Homo sapiens: one gene and its partners. The protein of the gene in region 1 interacts with the protein of each later gene in a biochemical or structural test. Each region holds a gene or a part of one and is shown in the gene's direction. Other genes may lie near its edges.

The links.
Region 2: the proteins of CCDC120 (region 1) and CEP170 form a complex in vitro, tested with the Homo sapiens proteins (one study listed by IntAct).
Region 3: the proteins of CCDC120 (region 1) and NIN form a complex in vitro, tested with the Homo sapiens proteins (one study listed by IntAct).

The regions. Positions count from the first base shown.
Region 1 is NC_000023.11:49,061,935-49,065,584, forward strand, and holds part of CCDC120 (coiled-coil domain-containing protein 120), read left to right. Parts: intron 1-24; 5' UTR 25-107; coding exon 108-170; exon of another isoform or gene 171-183; intron 184-300; coding exon 301-391; intron 392-533; coding exon 534-667; intron 668-1,926; coding exon 1,927-2,067; intron 2,068-2,435; coding exon 2,436-2,730; intron 2,731-3,101; coding exon 3,102-3,164; intron 3,165-3,519; coding exon 3,520-3,650. UniProt on the Homo sapiens protein: Centriolar protein required for centriole subdistal appendage assembly and microtubule anchoring in interphase cells. Together with CCDC68, cooperate with subdistal appendage components ODF2, NIN and CEP170 for hierarchical subdistal appendage assembly.
Region 2 is NC_000001.11:243,245,241-243,248,890, reverse strand, and holds part of CEP170 (centrosomal protein of 170 kDa), read left to right. Parts: intron 1-3,650.
Region 3 is NC_000014.9:50,754,545-50,758,194, reverse strand, and holds part of NIN (ninein), read left to right. Parts: coding exon 1-1,703; intron 1,704-3,327; coding exon 3,328-3,453; intron 3,454-3,562; coding exon 3,563-3,632; intron 3,633-3,650. UniProt on the Homo sapiens protein: Centrosomal protein required in the positioning and anchorage of the microtubule minus-end in epithelial cells. May also act as a centrosome maturation factor.

The DNA.
Region 1 (3,650 bases):
GTCCCATTAATTCTCCTTCCCCAGGCAAGACTCGTGGCTGTGACCCATGGGCCTCTGAGGAGGCGTTGTAAGTCCGCCCAGCTCCCCACTTGCTGTGCTCTCACTCAATGCGAAGGGAACCAAGGTACCAGGGCCAAGTGGGTCCAGACATCCACACGGATTCTGAAAGGGCAGGTCAAGCAGGCACGTGGGGCCCAGGTTACCCCTTATTCCCCGCTGTGGCATGGGAAGCTGGGAAGGGCTGGGGGTTGGGGTATCATGGGATGTGCTTCCTTAACGGCTCCTTTGTGTCACTGCCAGACTTTGTCCAGCCATCAGCCACGGCCTCTCGACAGCACCAAGATGGAAGTCAAAGGTCAGCTGATCAGCTCTCCTACCTTCAATGCCCCAGGTCGGTGGCTGCTTCCCCTCCTGCTGCCTCCTCCCCTGCTCTGAATCACCACCTGCTTGCTCGGGAAGAGTTGGTCCCTTGCCCCACAGCTGCTCCAGAATGCCCTGGCTGTCCCACTGATCTTTGCTCCCTCTGTGTCCAGCTGCCCTGTTCGGAGAGGCTGCCCCCCAGGTGAAGTCAGAGCGTCTGCGGGGGCTGCTTGACCGGCAGCGGACCCTGCAGGAGGCCCTGAGCCTGAAACTTCAGGAGCTCCGCAAAGTGTGTCTCCAGGAGGCGGTGAGGGCCTGGCCCTAGGGGTATCAGGCGGGGAGGTTGGGAGGAGGTGAGGAGCTGGGGCCCCTAGGTAGACAGACTTGGGTGGCAATTCCTCAACCACTTGTCTTGGCTGTAGATTCCCTGTCACCTACTTTCTCCTCAAAGCTCAGCTTAGATGTGTTAGAATGAATGAAATAGGCTGGGCGCTGTGGCTCACGCCTGTAATCCCAGCACTTTGGGAGGCCGAGGCAGGTGGATCACCTGAGGTCGGGAGTTCCAGACCAGCCTGACCAACATGGAGAAATCCCGTCTCTACTAAAAATGCAAAATTAGGCTGGGCGCGGTGGCTCACGCCTGTAATCCCAGCACTTTGGGAGGCCGAGGTGGGCGGAACACGATGTCAGGAGATCGAGACCATCCTGGCTAACACGGTGTAACCCCGTCTCTACTAAAAATACAAAAAATTAGTCAGGCGTGGTGGCGGGCACCTATAGTTCCAGCTACTCGGGAGGCTGAGGCAGGAGAATGGCATGAACCCGGGAGGCGGAGCTTGCAGTGAGCCCAGATTGCGCCACTGCACTCCAGCCTGGGCGACAGAGCAAGACTCTGTCTCAAAAAAAAAAAAAAAAAGCAAAATTAGCTGGGTGTGGTGATCCTAGCAACTTGGGAGGCTGAGGCAGGAGAATCGCTTAAACCCTGGAGGTGGAGGTTGCGGTGAGCTGAGATTGCGCCATTGCACTCCAGCCTGGGCAACAAGAGCAAAACTCCACCTCAAAAAAAAAAAATATGGTAATACAGGCCCACTGTTGACAATTTCAAATCCAACAAACCTCAGAAAACAGGTTCTGTCCAAAATTTGGCAGCACAGTCTGACCTGAACTGGCACAGGCTGATCTGTAGTTTCAGTTTACCCCTCTTACTGTGAATGCCCACAGTGTGCCGGAAATAATACTACAGCTCAGACCACGCAGCCACAGCCCCTGAAGTGAGTTATATAATACTTAGGATCTCGATGGTATCACCTTTATAAAAACAAAACAATTCTGGATTCCAAAGCAGGTCTCCCTGCCTCCCATGCCCACCACCCCAGGGGTTTGGGCCACTGAGGTTTGGGCACACCTGCCTAGTGGAGATACTGGTAGGAGGGAGGGGAGTATCGTGCGTGGTTGCTGAGCAGGGCCAGGCTCCTGGTAGGACTTCTGTAGCTTCTGGGATCATTAATGCTTCACCCCATCCTTCCAACTAACCCTTGGTAGTCTCTGACCCCTGCCTCCCACCAGGAGCTGACTGGCCAGCTGCCCCCTGAGTGCCCACTAGAGCCTGGTGAACGGCCCCAGTTGGTCCGCCGGCGGCCCCCCACAGCCCGCGCCTACCCTCCACCGCACCCCAACCAAGCACACCACTCCTTGTGCCCTGCTGAGGTGAGCAGATGGGTGTGGAGAGCAAGAGGGTGGGAAGAGGGGACAGGTACAGAGGAGTAGCCAGGAGGAAGGTGTGGGGAGGGGGCTTGTGGCCAGGTGAGGGAGAGGCTAAGATGAGAAGGAAAAGGGCTTCTGGAGTTAGTTTCCTGTGATGAGGGAGGATGCTGGTCCCTAACTGTCAGGACAGGCCTCCAACCCTAAGGAAGATGAACAGACCCAGCCCTTCACCAAGAGAGGCCCTGACACGCCCCCTCCCCGGGGTGAATAGGTCTGAATAGGCTGCAGGAAGTGCAGGCCAGCCTCTACTGGGTTTGGCCCCGCCAGGTCCCTGTTCCTGGCCATTTCCAACATTTGGGTGGGCCCAACAGGAGCTGGCTCTTGAGGCCCTGGAACGCGAGGTGTCAGTGCAACAGCAGATCGCGGCGGCCGCCCGCCGCCTGGCCTTGGCCCCTGATCTGAGCACCGAGCAGCGCCGGCGCCGGCGCCAGGTCCAGGCAGATGCACTGAGGAGGCTGCATGAGCTAGAGGAGCAGCTCAGGGATGTCCGGGCCCGCCTTGGCCTCCCAGTGCTCCCGCTGCCCCAGCCACTGCCACTGTCCACGGGGTCAGTGATCACCACCCAGGGAGTCTGCCTGGGCATGCGTCTTGCTCAGCTCAGCCAAGGTGAGCATCCCCTGGTGAGGGTGGGAGAGTGGACACTGGCAAATGGACGTGGTAGGGCTGGGATGGGTGACTGGCCGGTGAAAACCGGGAGGTAGGCACAACTCAAGTGGCCCAACCCGTGAGAAGAGTTGTGACAAACTGGCTTACCGGAAAGGACAAACTGTGGGGGACTGATGAATATCTGCCAGGACAGTCAGGAACCAAACTGGGGTGGTCTTGGGCTCTGGTAAAAGCAGATTCTTGGGACAGGAACAGGATGAGGCGGAAACTGGCCAGAAGGTGGCCCAAGTAGAGGTGCCCACCCAGTGGTGTAAGGGGGCAGCACCCAGGCCTGGGAGTGAGAGGCCCACTTCTCCCCCTCTCACCTGTAGAGGACGTAGTTCTGCACTCAGAGAGCAGCTCCCTCTCAGAGTCTGGGGCCAGCCATGACAACGGTGAGGACTCCTATCCCCCAAACCTGCCCCCGACTCCTACGTCCCTTTAGCCCATCCCCTTTATTCATCCGACCACATCCTGCATGATCAGCCCATCCTTTGATGCCCAGCCCCTCCTGTGCTGCTTCAGCTTCTCCTTAGCCATGCTCCATCTTCCTATGGGTCCCCCATCTTCTTAGCCTCACCCCACCCCAGCCCCACAGCCCCAGAACCTACTTGTCAGCCTTAGTTCCTCCTCAGCCTGCTTAACCTGTCCCAGCACTTTGCCCCTCCCCATGGCCTTGCCCCCCAGCCTGTCCTGCCCCCTCTGGGCCCCCCTCATTGAATTCTATCCCACTTGCTCTCTTCCACTCAGAGGAGCCCCATGGCTGCTTCTCTCTGGCCGAGCGCCCCTCACCACCCAAGGCTTGGGACCAGCTGCGGGCAGTATCTGGGGGGAGCCCTGAGCGGCGAACCCCATGGAAACCACCTCCATCAGATCTTTAT
Region 2 (3,650 bases), on another chromosome or scaffold:
AGAACACTGTGGCTGAAGGTGAGTGAGGAAAAGGTGCTTATAGGAGGAAATGAGGTTGCATAGAGATTTTATTCATTGATTTTAAGTGCTATGAGCATTCATTGGAGGATTTTGAGCAAAGCCAAAAAATTGGGTTATATTTTTAAAGAATGGCTCTGGGAATTCTTTAAAACACTGGGAACCATGAGATAAGCTAGGAAATGATTGGAATGATCTGGTTTAAGAGACATTAATGGCTTAGACTAGAGCGACAGTAGTGGCAATAGTGAAAGTTACTAGTTTCTGGCTTTAGAGAGTCAAATGTTTTGGATATGTTAAGTTTGAAGTGTCTGTTAAACGCCCAAGTGGACACATCAGGTAGGCAGTTAGATATGTAAGTCAAGCATTCAGAGGAGAGGTTTGGACTGAGGATAGTTAAATGTTAAGCATCACCAGTAGACTTAAAGGGATCTCTTGGCTAGGGAGTTAGACTGAGAAGAGATCCAAGAATTGAGAATTGGTACTTTCCACATGGAAAGCTGAGCAAAAGAGAAGGCGCCATCGAGGAGGATTGAAAAGTGGACAGTGGGGTGTGAGGAAACTGAAGAGTGTGTTGTCCCACAAGCCAAGTAAAGGAAGTATTTTTAGAGATAAGGAGTGATCAGTCCCCTGTATCACCTTTAATCACCTAAATACTTCATAAGAAATCAGGCAGTATCCTCTTTCTTTCTGAATGGTCTCTGAGAAAGCAATTTCCTTTTTTAAATCTGGTTTATCAACATGAATGTTCACAGTTATTCTCCCCTGGCAACTACTAAATCTAAAGCCCTGAACAAAGTTTTACTCATAAAGAGGCCAATGCTGTTTCCTACGTGGATGAGTATGGCAGCTGCTGCTGCCTCTGATGTTTGAACAGGAGAAGCGATGCTGTTTCATAGGAAGAATTTATCAGGAAGCTAGTGATAGTCCAGCTACCTCAGAGGTTTATTGTGGTAGCCAAACGAGGTAGATGTAAAAACCAAATGAAAGGTATAATTGCAGATAGGGGTCTCCTTCCCTTATTGCCCCAAGTGTGGTACCAACTTGATAGTGTTAGATTTGAAGAACTATGTTGGCAAATAAAAATATTTTTCATTTTGAGTCTGTAGGAATAGTTTTTTACTTCCTATGCACTCTATCCCGATAGGCAGTTTCGCACATCATTTTATAATATTCTTGAGGGTAGAGAAAAGGGCTAGAAAGAGGATAAGAACAACCAGGGCAGGCGCGGTGGCTCACGCCTGTAGTCCCAGCACTTTGGGAGGCCGAAGCGGGTGGATCACCTGAGGTCAGGAGTTCGAGACCAGCCTGGCCAACATGGTGAAACCCCGTCTCTACTAAAAATACAAAAATTAGTCAGGCGTGGTGGCGCAGGCCTGTAATCCCAGCTACTCAGGAGGCTGAGGAAGGAGAATTGCTTGAGCCCAGGAGATGGAGATTGCAGTGAGCCAAGATCACGTCACTGTACTCCAGCCTGGGCAACAGGGTGAGACTCCATCTCAAAAAAGAAAGAAAAGAACAACCAGGCTTTGAGATAATAGCTTTTTTTCCCAATCCTAAACTCATCCTTTAATTCTAAACAGTGTCTAAATAAAGAGAATTGAGGTAGAAAAGTAAGCAAGTTAAAAGGCTTCCTTACTTTTTTTTTCCCTAGGCCAGCCAGGAAGACTTTCTTCTTTTAACTGACTTTTTTCTGGAAAGTGTTCAACTGAGTAATGGTTTGTCACATGTTACATGGAATAGAAAAAGTGCAAATTCAAAGCTTAGGGACTGGTTAGGGGTTTTGAACTCTAGGCAGCCAGCTAGAAACTGATTTGAGGAAGCAGGAGGGTGGGGGAAATGAGTCTGCTTGATGATAATAGGGGTAAAGTGCAAAATACTTATTTTGGTGAAAAAGGAACATCGCAAATACAGGACTTTTTGTGGTAAGCTTTTTGAGGCAATAGGACTATAACTTCACAATACATAGGTATCTTGCAGACCTTATATAATATGATTTGCTATGGCTGGTCATTAAATACTTCTCCTTGGATAAAAAATGCATATAATGCATTGCAAATTGAAGGCCATTTTATTTTTTATATTACAAATCTAATCCTAATACATGGCAGAAAATTTAGAAAACAAGATTTTCTACCATTAAGTACTATCATAATCCCACTAGCCAGTAACCCTGTTATGTATTCTTGTCTATTCTGGTTTAATTTGGTAACATTTTATCATGAAGTTAAACTTTCTGGCTCTAACTTTTAATGTGGCATAGAATCTGTCTTCTCAAACATGTAATCTACTTACACACAATTTATGAAAATTAAATGTATTTTTAAAATTGTAAACAACAGGCCGGGCCCAGTGGCTCATGCCTGTAATCCCAGCACTTTGGGAGGCCGAAGCCAGCAGATCACTTGAGGTCAGGAGTTCAAGACCAGCCTGGCCAACATGGGGAAACCCTGTCTCTACTAAAAATACAAAAATTAGCTGAGCGTGGTGGTGCACACCTGTAATCCCAGCTACTCGGGAGGCTGAGGCAGGAGAATCGCTTTAATCCAGGAGGCAGATGTTGTAGTGAGCTGAGATTGCTCCACTGCACTCCAGCCTGGGTGGCAGAGCGAGACTCTGTCTCAAAAAAAAAAAAAAAAAAAAAAAGTAAACAACACTGTAATGGACATTTCTAACTCTGAATTTCTGTGCAAATCAATGTTTTTCTTTGATTTCAACAAATTATGCTTAAAATACAATGCAGATACAAATGCAGAATTCTACTAATTAAACCTTTTCTAACTTTTTAATAAAATTACCCCCTCCAGTTTATATCAGTTTATTCTTCTACCACTGGCATATGAAACTGTGTGTTTCTTCACCCCTTCATCAGTGCTGAATATTACGTATCTTTTTTAAAATTTGCTTTCTTTTTTCTTTTTTTTTTTGAGACGAGGTCCCGCTCTGTTACCCAGGCTAGAGTGGAGTGGTGTGTTCATGGCTTGCTGCAGCCTTTACCTCCTGGGCTCAAGGGATCCTCTCCGCTCAGTCTCCCAGGTAGCTGGGACTGTAGGCATGGGCTGCCATGCCCATCTAAGTTTTTTTGTTTTCTTTTCTTTTTTGTGTTTTTTTTGTTTTGTTTTTTGTTTTTTGTTTTTTGTTTGTTTGTTTTGTTTTCTTGAGATGGAGTCTTGCTCTGTCGCCCAGGCTGGATTGAAGTGGCGAGATCTCGGCTCACTGCAACCTCTGCCTCGCGGGTTCAAGCAATTCTTCTGCTTCAGCCTCCTGAGTAGCTGGAATTACAGGCACACACCACCACACCTGGCTAATTTTTGTATTTTTAGTAGAGACGGGGTTTCACCATGTTGGTCAGGCTGGTCTTGAACTCCTGACCTCGTGATCCGCTCACCTTGGCCTCCCAAAGTGCTGGGATTACAGGCGTGAGCCACCGCACTGGCCAAGGTTTTTTATTTTTTTATAGAGACAAGGTCTCATTTTGTTCCCTAGGCTGGTCTCAAACTCCTGGGCTCTAGCAGTTTTCCTGTCTCAGCATCCCAAAGTGGTGGGGTTACAGGCATGAGCCACCCAATCTGGACAGTTTTGCCACTTTGATGAACAACAACCAAAAAAAAAAACCTTATTTAAATTTCTTT
Region 3 (3,650 bases), on another chromosome or scaffold:
AGGGAACTGAGGGAGCGTGAGGAGGTCCTGTGCCAGGCAGGGGCTTCGGAGCAGCTGGCCAGCCAGCGGCTGGAAAGACTAGAAATGGAACATGACCAGGAAAGGCAGGAAATGATGTCCAAGCTTCTAGCCATGGAGAACATTCACAAAGCGACCTGTGAGACAGCAGATCGAGAAAGAGCCGAGATGAGCACAGAAATCTCCAGACTTCAGAGTAAAATAAAGGAAATGCAGCAGGCAACATCTCCTCTCTCAATGCTTCAGAGTGGTTGCCAGGTGATAGGAGAGGAGGAGGTGGAAGGAGATGGAGCCCTGTCCCTGCTTCAGCAAGGGGAGCAGCTGTTGGAAGAAAATGGGGACGTCCTCTTAAGCCTGCAGAGAGCTCATGAACAGGCAGTGAAGGAAAATGTGAAAATGGCTACTGAAATTTCTAGATTGCAACAGAGGCTACAAAAGTTAGAGCCAGGGTTAGTAATGTCTTCTTGTTTGGATGAGCCAGCTACTGAGTTTTTTGGAAATACTGCGGAACAAACAGAGCAGTTTTTACAGCAAAACCGAACGAAGCAAGTAGAAGGTGTGACCAGGCGGCATGTCCTAAGTGACCTGGAAGATGATGAGGTCCGGGACCTGGGAAGTACAGGGACGAGCTCTGTTCAGAGACAGGAAGTCAAAATAGAGGAGTCTGAAGCTTCAGTAGAGGGTTTTTCTGAGCTTGAAAACAGTGAAGAGACCAGGACTGAATCCTGGGAGCTGAAGAATCAGATTAGTCAGCTTCAGGAACAGCTAATGATGTTATGTGCGGACTGTGATCGAGCTTCTGAAAAGAAACAGGACCTACTTTTTGATGTTTCTGTGCTAAAAAAGAAACTGAAGATGCTTGAGAGAATCCCTGAGGCTTCTCCCAAATATAAGCTGTTGTATGAAGATGTGAGCCGAGAAAATGACTGCCTTCAGGAAGAGCTGAGAATGATGGAGACACGCTACGATGAGGCACTAGAAAATAACAAAGAACTCACTGCAGAGGTTTTCAGGTTGCAGGATGAGCTGAAGAAAATGGAGGAAGTCACTGAAACATTCCTCAGCCTGGAAAAGAGTTACGATGAGGTCAAAATAGAAAATGAGGGGCTGAATGTTCTGGTTTTGAGACTTCAAGGCAAGATTGAGAAGCTTCAGGAAAGCGTGGTCCAGCGGTGTGACTGCTGCTTATGGGAAGCCAGTTTAGAGAACCTGGAAATCGAACCTGATGGAAATATACTCCAGCTCAATCAGACACTGGAAGAGTGTGTGCCCAGGGTTAGGAGTGTACATCATGTCATAGAGGAATGTAAGCAAGAAAACCAGTACCTTGAGGGGAACACACAGCTCTTGGAAAAAGTAAAAGCACATGAAATTGCCTGGTTACATGGAACAATTCAGACACATCAAGAAAGGCCAAGAGTACAGAATCAAGTTATACTGGAGGAAAACACTACTCTCCTAGGCTTTCAAGACAAACATTTTCAGCATCAGGCCACCATAGCAGAGTTAGAACTGGAGAAAACAAAGTTACAGGAGCTGACTAGGAAGTTGAAGGAGAGAGTCACTATTTTAGTTAAGCAAAAAGATGTACTTTCTCACGGAGAAAAGGAGGAAGAGCTGAAGGCAATGATGCATGACTTGCAGATCACGTGCAGTGAGATGCAGCAAAAAGTTGAACTTCTGAGGTAATGTATGTACCTTCTAGACGTCACGAATCCCACAGAGCACCTCACCAGATCTAACTTCCACTGCTTGCCGTGCCTAGAGAAACTAACCTAGTAGTCTTCACGAAGAGAGCAGTACTCTCTAGACTTCCTTCTGCTTCTGTGCCGTATTAACAAATAAAATAACCTTGTTTAGGAGGCATTCCCTTCCGCTGTAGCAAACAAGTGTTCATATGGGGTGTGAAAGTTCACAATGGCGAGTGTTTGCTGTTTAACCATGTGCATCCTCAATGTACCTCTTTAACTTTTTTCTAGCACTTATTTCATTTAGATGGATAGGGGATTTTTTTTTTTTATTTTGCTAAGTGTTACTTTCCTCATTTTGAGGAAACATGTTATATACAAATGAATGATTTTTTGTGTATTATTAACTTAGTAGATAAGAACTCACTTCTTATGCTAATATAGAAAAAATGTTCTGTCTTTATAGTTTTGTACTCATATCACTTGAAGCACATGCTGATAACCCATAAACAGTGCAAATGGTCAGGCACCATGGCTTAAATGCCTGCAATCTCAACTGTTTGGGAGGCCAAGGCAAGAGGATTTCTTGAGGCCAGGAGTTTCCAGGCAAGCCTAGGGAACATAGCAAGACTGCCTCTACAGAAAAATAAAAAAATGTTTGCTGGGCGTGGTGGTGCACACCTGTGGTCCCAGCTACTTGGGAGGCCGAGGTGGGAGGGTTGCTTGAGCTTGAGAGGTCAAAGCTGCAGTGAGCCATGATCATGCCATTGTACTCCAGACTGGGTGACAGAGTGAGACCCTGTCTCTTTTAAAAAAAAAAAAAAAAAAAAAAAAAAAAAAGAGACAAAACAAACAGTGGAAATTTATCTTAGAACATATAATTTGAGGAGCCTCCAGATTCTAATAAATATGCTTGAAAAGCAGAGATACAAGTAGAATTAATTTGAACCACTGCCCACTTGACATTGTAAAATATAATTGCATAGTCTTCTAGCAAATTTGGTTTTTCAAAAAAAAAAAAAACTTGTAAACTATTACAGGACGTCTGAAATGTCTCTGAAATAATTTAATTCTGAATGTAGTTTTTCCTCTTCTTCAGACCATTTTTAGTCCTAAAAATCAGAATATAATGAGATGAATAAAATCACAAAGTAAACAGTGTACATATTTCATTGTGGCCCTTTGATTTCAATAGAGAATTTTCTTTCCCTAGGTACCCAGGGGCCTAAAACTAAGCTAATATAGCTTTGTAACATGGCTTATGTGTATTCAGAACAGGTAGGACTTGAGACTGAGATAAATGAAGACATTTGCTCAAAGCAGTATGCTTGCCATTGAGAAAAATCAACAACCAGAATGAGCATTGAGTCTTGATTCATTTCTCCAGGCTTAAGGGTTTTTTAGCTACACTTCTCTAACATCTTTTAGTGAAATTCTTACTTCCCAAAAGAAATGTGTCAATATGTCATAACTCGATTTCCAAATACTAAGAGACTACTAATTTAGACTTTTCTTTTTAACTGGCATTGAATACTCATCCTTTTGGAAGTTACTAGAAAATATTTTCCAAAGATGCCAGATGACTGCCTTGTAACAATTTTTTTCAATCTCTGTGCTTCAGATATGAATCTGAAAAGCTTCAACAGGAAAATTCTATTTTGAGAAATGAAATTACTACTTTAAATGAAGAAGATAGCATTTCTAACCTGAAATTAGGGACATTAAATGGATCTCAGGAAGAAATGTGGTAAGACGTATACTTACATTTTCCTAAGACATTTTTGCAAAGACTAAAATTCTTTTACTTCAGCTTTTAAAGCCTAACCATTAAATTTTATTTTCATCATTCCTTTTAGGCAAAAAACGGAAACTGTAAAACAAGAAAATGCTGCAGTTCAGAAGATGGTTGAAAATTTAAAGAAACAGGTAAGGAAATACTTAATA